Homo sapiens: one gene and its partner. The protein of the gene in region 2 interacts with the protein of the main gene of each other region in a pairwise test. Each region holds a gene or a part of one and is shown on either strand. Other genes may lie near its edges.

Evidence for each region. Proteins that work in one complex are often made in the same cells at the same time.
Region 1: the proteins of FBXL17 (region 2) and HADH interact in a two-hybrid assay, tested with the Homo sapiens proteins (one large-scale study listed by BioGRID).

Annotation. Positions count from the first base shown.
Region 1 is NC_000004.12:108,020,674-108,024,388, reverse strand, and holds part of HADH (hydroxyacyl-coenzyme A dehydrogenase, mitochondrial isoform 2 precursor), read right to left. Parts: intron 916-3,715; coding exon 826-915; intron 1-825. UniProt on the Homo sapiens protein: Mitochondrial fatty acid beta-oxidation enzyme that catalyzes the third step of the beta-oxidation cycle for medium and short-chain 3-hydroxy fatty acyl-CoAs (C4 to C10).
Region 2 is NC_000005.10:107,878,362-107,882,162, reverse strand, and holds part of FBXL17 (F-box/LRR-repeat protein 17), read left to right. Parts: intron 1-983; coding exon 984-1,126; coding exon of another isoform or gene 1,127-1,300; exon of another isoform or gene 1,301-3,801. UniProt on the Homo sapiens protein: Substrate-recognition component of the SCF(FBXL17) E3 ubiquitin ligase complex, a key component of a quality control pathway required to ensure functional dimerization of BTB domain-containing proteins (dimerization quality control, DQC).

The sequences.
Region 1 (3,715 bases), on a different chromosome or scaffold from region 2:
GATACAAAGGATTACAGTTAAAAAAAAAGTAGATGACTTATATGTAAATCTTTGTAATGGTGTAGCATTTTGTGACACAACTACCCCTTAAGAAAAACTGCAAAGTCATGCATAAGTATAGTCCCCGAGTTTTGGGGGAACTAAAGAGGAACTAAAGCAAATGGAGAAACTGAAGGTAATCAAAATAATTACCTTCAGGTAGGTTATCATTTCAGCAACTGGGATTATTTTATATACAATAACTGGGCAGCTTAAGAAAGGGGAAAAAAAAGATGGAGGTCAAGCAGGCTTCCCACTAAACCATGCTGCTTCTTGAAAAACAAAACAACAAACAATAAAAACATAATGCAACTTCCCGGTGAGAAACAGGTTCCTTATTGCTATTTTGGCAGGTTGCTCTCTCACTGTCTTATCATTTATTTCACCATCTGTAGTATTTCTTGCAAAAGTAAAGCCCTCATTTTCTGTTAGGGAGGTATGTGTTTACCAAGCTGTACCTAAAATCATTTATGAAAATGCAGCCATTCATCAGGAGACAAAAGCCAGGACAGAGAGCAGTCCCGTGTCTTCTACTCAGCTGGTGTCCTGAGCTCCATTCAGGTCTCAGACTATCCACATAATGGCCTTAGGCATGGCTTAGGAGTCCAGTTTCCCTGTCTACAAACTAGAACAGGAGGCACGGATTGCTCTTTACAGCATGTGGACAAGCTTGCAGTATACAATGCTCCTTCTTTCACATCATTCTATGAGAAGAATTCTACCAGGAACAAGTCAGGGTCCAAGAAGAAAAGAACTACCTCCTTCCCAAGCTACCCATACTCTTACCTTGCAAGAAACAGGATGCTTTCCTAGGGCTTTGCTAAAGTCTACCAAAGATTCAAATGTCTTCTGGCTGGTCATTGGTGTTTTAATGACCTGGAAATGCAAAGCAGAGAATTATGACCAGAGTGTCAGCAAGCAACTTCGGTAGAATGGTTCAAGGAATGATTGATCAAAAGGCTCCATATAGGCAACAAAAATAGTTTGAGTTTCAGCATAGAAGTAGGAATCTCAAGCCAGAAACAATGTATTTCCCAAAATGACTATTTTAAAACAGAGGCCAAATGTGGTGGCTCATGCCTGTAATCCCAGCACTTTGGGAGGCTGAAGCGGGCAGATCATGAAGTCAAGAGATCGAGACCATCCTGGCTAACATGGTGAAACCCTATCTCTACTAAAAATACAAAAATTAGTTGGGCATGGTGGCATGTGCCTGTAGTCCCAGCTACTTGGGAGGCCCAGGCAGAAGAATTGCTTGAACCTGGGAGGTGGAGGTTGCAGTGAGCCGAGATCATGCCACTGCACTCCAGCCTGGGTGACAGAGCAAGACACCGTCTCAAAAAAAAAAAAAAAAAGACAACAGTGTACTGTAGAATGTACAAAATCACGGCTTAAAATACAAGTGTATGTGTGTACGTGTGTGTATAGGACAGTTTTACAGGCTTTGTTGTTGAGACAAGCCTGGGTTCAGTTGCACCACTTACTGGCTGTGTGACCCTGAGTATGTTTCTTGAAACTGAAATGACACTGAAATCACTCTGTTCACCTCAGGAAGTTGAGGTGAGAATGAAATTACATTGGGAGTAAAGCACAAAGCCTAAGCACAAATGCTCAATAAATGCTGACTTCCATTATTTAATTATTAGAAGTCTGGAAGTATATGATGGTTGCCCTTAAAGTCTTCTACGTGGGACCTGATCTTCTATTATAGAGGAGGAGGAGCCCCAGGAAAGTGAGTAATTTGCCCAAGTGACAGTTCTCCTGGATTCCTGAGTATTTCTCCCATGACTCCACCCTCTGCCACACAGATGCTCTAGAGGCCAGCGGCCCCTTGGCTTCAGAACAGACTCATCCTTCTGGGGAAGGCTTTCATTTACAGCAAGCGGGGCCTGCCACCTGCTCCAGCAGCCCTCCTGACCTCTGTGAGGTACAGGCAAGGGCACAAGGGCTGCCCTACTGGCATCTGTAGGGGATGGCACCAAGCACGATGCCCGGCACAGTCAGCCCTCAGTAAGCAGTTAGAGAACTCATGTGTAATGGTAAATGGAAAGAACCAGATGAAGTATATATATATATATTTTTAAACAGGAGAGATGCGTGTTTATTCACTCATTCATTCAACTATACACACACACACACACACACACATACACACACACATACACACACACACACACACACATATATATATGTAAAATGTAAAGGCCAGTAAAGAACTTCAATCGGAGTCAAAGGGTTTACTTTAGACCCTTCATGGGATCTTAGGCAACTGCCTCACCTCTCTTCTCTGGAATGGGGATCATGGGCATGTCTTCCCTGTGCAAGAGGGCCGTCTGACTCGGTGAACTAATGAGCTAGTGTCTGTGCAGGGATGAAAGGTGCTATATAAACAAAGAAGAGTTCTCACTCCTGTTTTCGTGTGATCACAGCCTGGGCCATGGTGTCATGTCGTGACATCAAGAGAAGTGAATGGATGGAAACAGGAAAAGACACAGTGAAGATGGAGAAGAGGAGCAGGACGAGAAAGACCAGAAGCCACCCTGCGGGTACCACAAATCAAACAGAATCCCAGAGCTGTTTGAAAGGAGGTCTAAAAAGTCTCCATCAAAACCACAGACTGAGCTGGGGGACAAACACTGCTGACTATGGAGTTTTCAAATTAAGTTTTTGGTTTAAGGGAGTTAATAATAGTGAAGGTTTGTTTCTTTTTAAACAGGAGAGATGGATGTTTATTCACTCATTCATTCATTCAACGAACAGTAATTTGTACAGATACGCTGCTCCTAGTTCCAACAGAGTCTGAAAAAAAATACATATATATATACATTTAAATGAGCCCAGTCCTAAGTAAAGGAGCCACTTAGCTTATTATACAAGTTATTTTGGTGTACACCACCAGCAACACAAGGAAGAGCTAAAGTTAAACAATAAAAACTGAATAGAGAAGAACACTTTTACAAAATACTTTCTAAAAAATAGTAGCATTTGCTAAACATCAGCTGTTAACAACCAACACACTACATTTCCAAAGACAAAAGCATACATTACCAGATAAATGCAGTTGAAAACATTATTAAAGTAAATCTACAGAATGTGCCTATCTCCAAAACACTTATATATACAATATAATAACTAAAGAAATCAACTAGTCCCTAAGTACTGAAATGTTGGAAATGCATGCCACTTCTTTGCTCTTAATCTGCATGAGATAAGAGCTGTTAAATGCTGTTTCTTCTGTTCCCCAAATCCCTCCCCTTCATTCTTCAATTTCTTCAAAAAATCAGCCTTAGGGGATAGGAGAAAATAGGAGGAAGCTGAGAAGCAATGTTAGTAAGACAGAAAAAGTCCCATTGCAAGATGGTCAAAGTTGTCACTTGAGAGAAAATGCTAAAAAAAATGGTCATTATTATGACTTATTAAAAATGCTTATGCTGAGTAGTGGTGAGGGAATGAGGAGGATAAAGGAAGGAAAAGGTAGTTGGAAAAGGCAATAATGAAGAAAACAGACGATACACACTCCCAGAGAGGCCACAGCCAGTGTGTGTAGGTTTGCCTGGCCCCACATCACCCACATGGCAGCATCAGCGTCCCCCACACTTCGCAGGGCAATAACTCCTCAACCTCAGAACAAATGCTACTTTAATAGCGGCTGCTCCTCAGACCCTGTAATTAGGAC
Region 2 (3,801 bases):
ATTTCTCTTTTCTTTTTGATATTTGTGGCACTGTTTTCAGGGTTTTGATTCACAAACCAGTGCACCATAAACTGGTGCTGGGGTATTGAAATTTGTTTTCTGGGCTCCTTAAATATAAAGGTGGGCACATTTATCAAAGTCGGTAGAAAAGAGCCACATTCACCACTTGGTCGCTGTGATGGGGTGATGGGTTATGGGACTTTGCAGTGATTAGTAGTGCACATCATAGATTATGGGATAAGTGTCTGCACTTTAGTGGTGGTACAATGCTAAACAGCCGAGAAGACTACAGATACTCTCATAGTTTACAGACGACAGGCTTCATTTTGTATGTTAATAGAAGGAAGACTTCTGATAGGATGAGGAAATTCACCATAACAAATGCATTCTGTTTACTGCACTCTAGCATGGCACCAATTAAAATCAGCAGTATGTATGATGTACTCTTAATTCCTAACAGTCCCAAGAAGCGCTAATGTGAAAAATATTTTATACTTTTACATTTTACAGGTCATGAACAGATGGAAAAAATTATGCCAATTGGTAAAGACATTCACTTGCAGTATAACACTCCTCAAAATGGTGTTTACGTGGGTTCTTCTTTAAAAAAAAATTAAAGTTATCTTGGGTAAAATTAAGTTAGTACTTGGGTTTTTTTAAATGTTGTATCTGTAATACATTTTAATTTATTCCTTCTGCAGAGCTGAATGTTTGAAAGTACAGGTAACCTTGTAATGAATAAAACTGATAAAAGGTTGTGTTCAATGAAAGGGAAATTATGGAATGATTATTCACTTTGCAAATGGGTTTGTCATAGGGAAGCTTTCCTAAAGCATTTCAAATTTAGTTTAGTTTATAAAACGTTCATTTACACACAAAATTTCAGGAACAAATTTAGTGAGGAAATGAGATGAATAGTCATAATAAGATAGAGCTCCCTTACACTGCTAACATTAATGCTTTCTCTGCGTCCCTTCTTGCAGCACTGATAGCCATTGGGCGATACAGCATGACAATAGAGACTGTGGATGTCGGATGGTGTAAAGAAATCACAGACCAAGGAGCCACCCTGATTGCACAGAGCAGCAAGTCTCTGAGATATTTGGGGCTGATGAGATGTGATAAAGTAAGAGTTGACTATCAAGTTGTTTGCTTTCTACATATCAGTATAGTTAATAGCTTGATGTCATATCCTCTCTCCTTCTCTATCTCCACCCCCGTGTATTATATATTATATATACATTTTATATGTATATATGCAATTATAGCTATGCATTGTTTGCCTGCTTTTGTAAACTAATCTGAGATTATCTTTGTATTTCCCCACTTAATAATGAATTTTGTGCTTAAGTAGAAAGAAAAAGTAATCATATACATAGTCAACTAGAGTTTGGCATCCTATTCATAAGTCCATGGACCAAAATGTAAAAGATTACATGACAAACTGCAATTTGCAGGGTCTAACCGTAAAATTGTATTCTGGGTTTCAAGTTTCCAGCAACAGTAAAGGTGGAAAGAACAGTGCCAAATTGGTTTTTCACAAGTGTGTAATTTTGGTACTGAACATCTATGTATTCTGGCCATTCGGGACCAACAAAGGGCCAGTAAGGGGGTATGTGGGAATTTGCATCTCCCCATACATCAGATGCCACTCCCAGCACATGATAAGAAGTGGTTCCAGAGGTCCTGGTGGAAGGCCTGTAGAACCAGCCAGGGATGTGAGCATGAGTTTAGGAAATGGTGTAGCATTTAACGTGGGACCCTTTGAAGACTGAGAAAACAGATAATAAAAATCTATACTGACACCTGTAATCCCAGCACATTGGGAGGCCAAGGCAGAAGGATCACTTGAGCCCAGGAATTTGAGACCAGCCTGGACAACATGGGAAAACCCTGTCTCTATCCCCCTCTCCCCCAACAAAAAAAAATTAGCCAGGCATAATGGCACACACCTGTAGTCCCAGCTACTCGGGAAGCTAAGGTGGGAGGATCACCTGAGCTCAAGAGGCCGAGGTTGCAGTGAGCCGTGATTGTGCCGCAACCACCTCAGCCTGGATGACGGAGCACGACTGTGTCCCAAACAAACAAAAAAAACCTATACTGGACACCAGGCACTCCACAGGTGTTTTCTTCTTTGTTTATTCCATGTTTTACCTATAACAAGTCTAAGAAATAGTTATTTGCATTGTGAAGGGGAGAAAATGGAGGCTCAGAAAGACCAGTCAGTGGCCCCAGGATACTCTGGCAAGACTTCATGCCGGGTCTTTGGAGTCTGTATCCAGTGCTGCTGGCACAACCCAGGGGGCAGTCTGTGGCCACGGGGACTGCTTCCCTTGGAAAAGGTCCAGTTCAGATACTTGCTCAGAAAGTGCCGCCATCTTGTACTAATTTACACATGTGTGCTACTTTTGTAAATGGTGATTAGGAACAAATCTAGCAAAATAATGTGAAACTAAATAGACACGCCATTCAAAGGGCATGCATCTTCTAAATGTAGCAAATGTGGGGGCAAATGAAGTATGGCCCAAAGCTCTTGTGTCCTTTGTGATTTTTTGTTAATTGGCTAATTCTTTTCTCCAAACACTTTAGAATCCCAACTTATACGAGACCTTTGCCAGCTAGTTATGTTTAGAGAAATGTTATTATATATTCTCAGCCCAGCCCAGAAGCGACTTACTTTGTAACTAAGCAACAGCACTGAGATCCGGGGCTTGCGAGTCTCCCACAAATCTTTCCACTAACCAACCTAATGCCGCTGCTAACCCTGCCACTTTAAAATGACTTCTTTTAAGACAAGTTAAAGGGTCCACCATAGGCATAGTCCTCTAGAAACAGGAATCAATGACAGCAGAACTCCTCAGCTTCCAGCAGAAGGAACTGCCACATGAATGCTAACTAAAGCTACCAAAATGTACACATTCATACATATGTGTCCGCAGCCATTCTCAGAAATTGTCATATTTCTAACCTGTAATCTTTAGATGGTTAAGATCAGCTCCATCTTCGGAGATACACTGTAGAAGTTGTATGTTACAGTTACTACAGGAGAATGTTATTCCAGACATATTTGCTGACCAGCATTTTGCTGATTTTTAGTTAAGAAATGGGTTATTTTCTACCCAAATGCAAATTAGTCCAAAATTAAATAGAGACAGTATTCAGATTAGCTGTATCCCTGAGGGTTTTAGCCCTTTTCCTGGGCTGCCTCTGAATCCTTTCTCTAACCAGAGAGCCACTCTGAGAACCCATTGGCTCCAGCACGACGCCGTCTGGTCAGAGCCTGCTGCAGTGCAGCCCAGGGAGATGCTGGACCCAGCCTTGCTGTCTGGCTTCCTCAGACTTAAAGCAGCTCAGAGCCAAACACGAGAGGCTCTGTGAGGATGGAAGACAGTTCCAAACCACACACAAAGCACAAGTAAAGCCTTGCACAGAAAAGCCTGCTTGTTGGTTTAGTTGGATGGAAATCTAAAGTAGCTATTCAGTTTTCAGATTTTGTATCATGCCATCCATCTCCAGATTTTAAGTTACCATCAAGATTCAAAGGAAGATATGAGTAACAAAGAAAAGAAATTAGTAGCAACGGTATGGTCTGCGGAGAGCCAGAGTTCAGGTTCAGATCTGGGCTTTGCACTTACTAGTTGTGTCACCGCGGGCAGTTACTAACCTCTCAGTGCCTGTTCCCTCGTTTGCAAAATGAGGATGATACTAGTACCTATCTTGTAGAATTGTGAGCATGTGAATGAGTTAACATACATAAAGCACTTAGAATAATGTCTATTATATATAAAATGCTCTGTTACT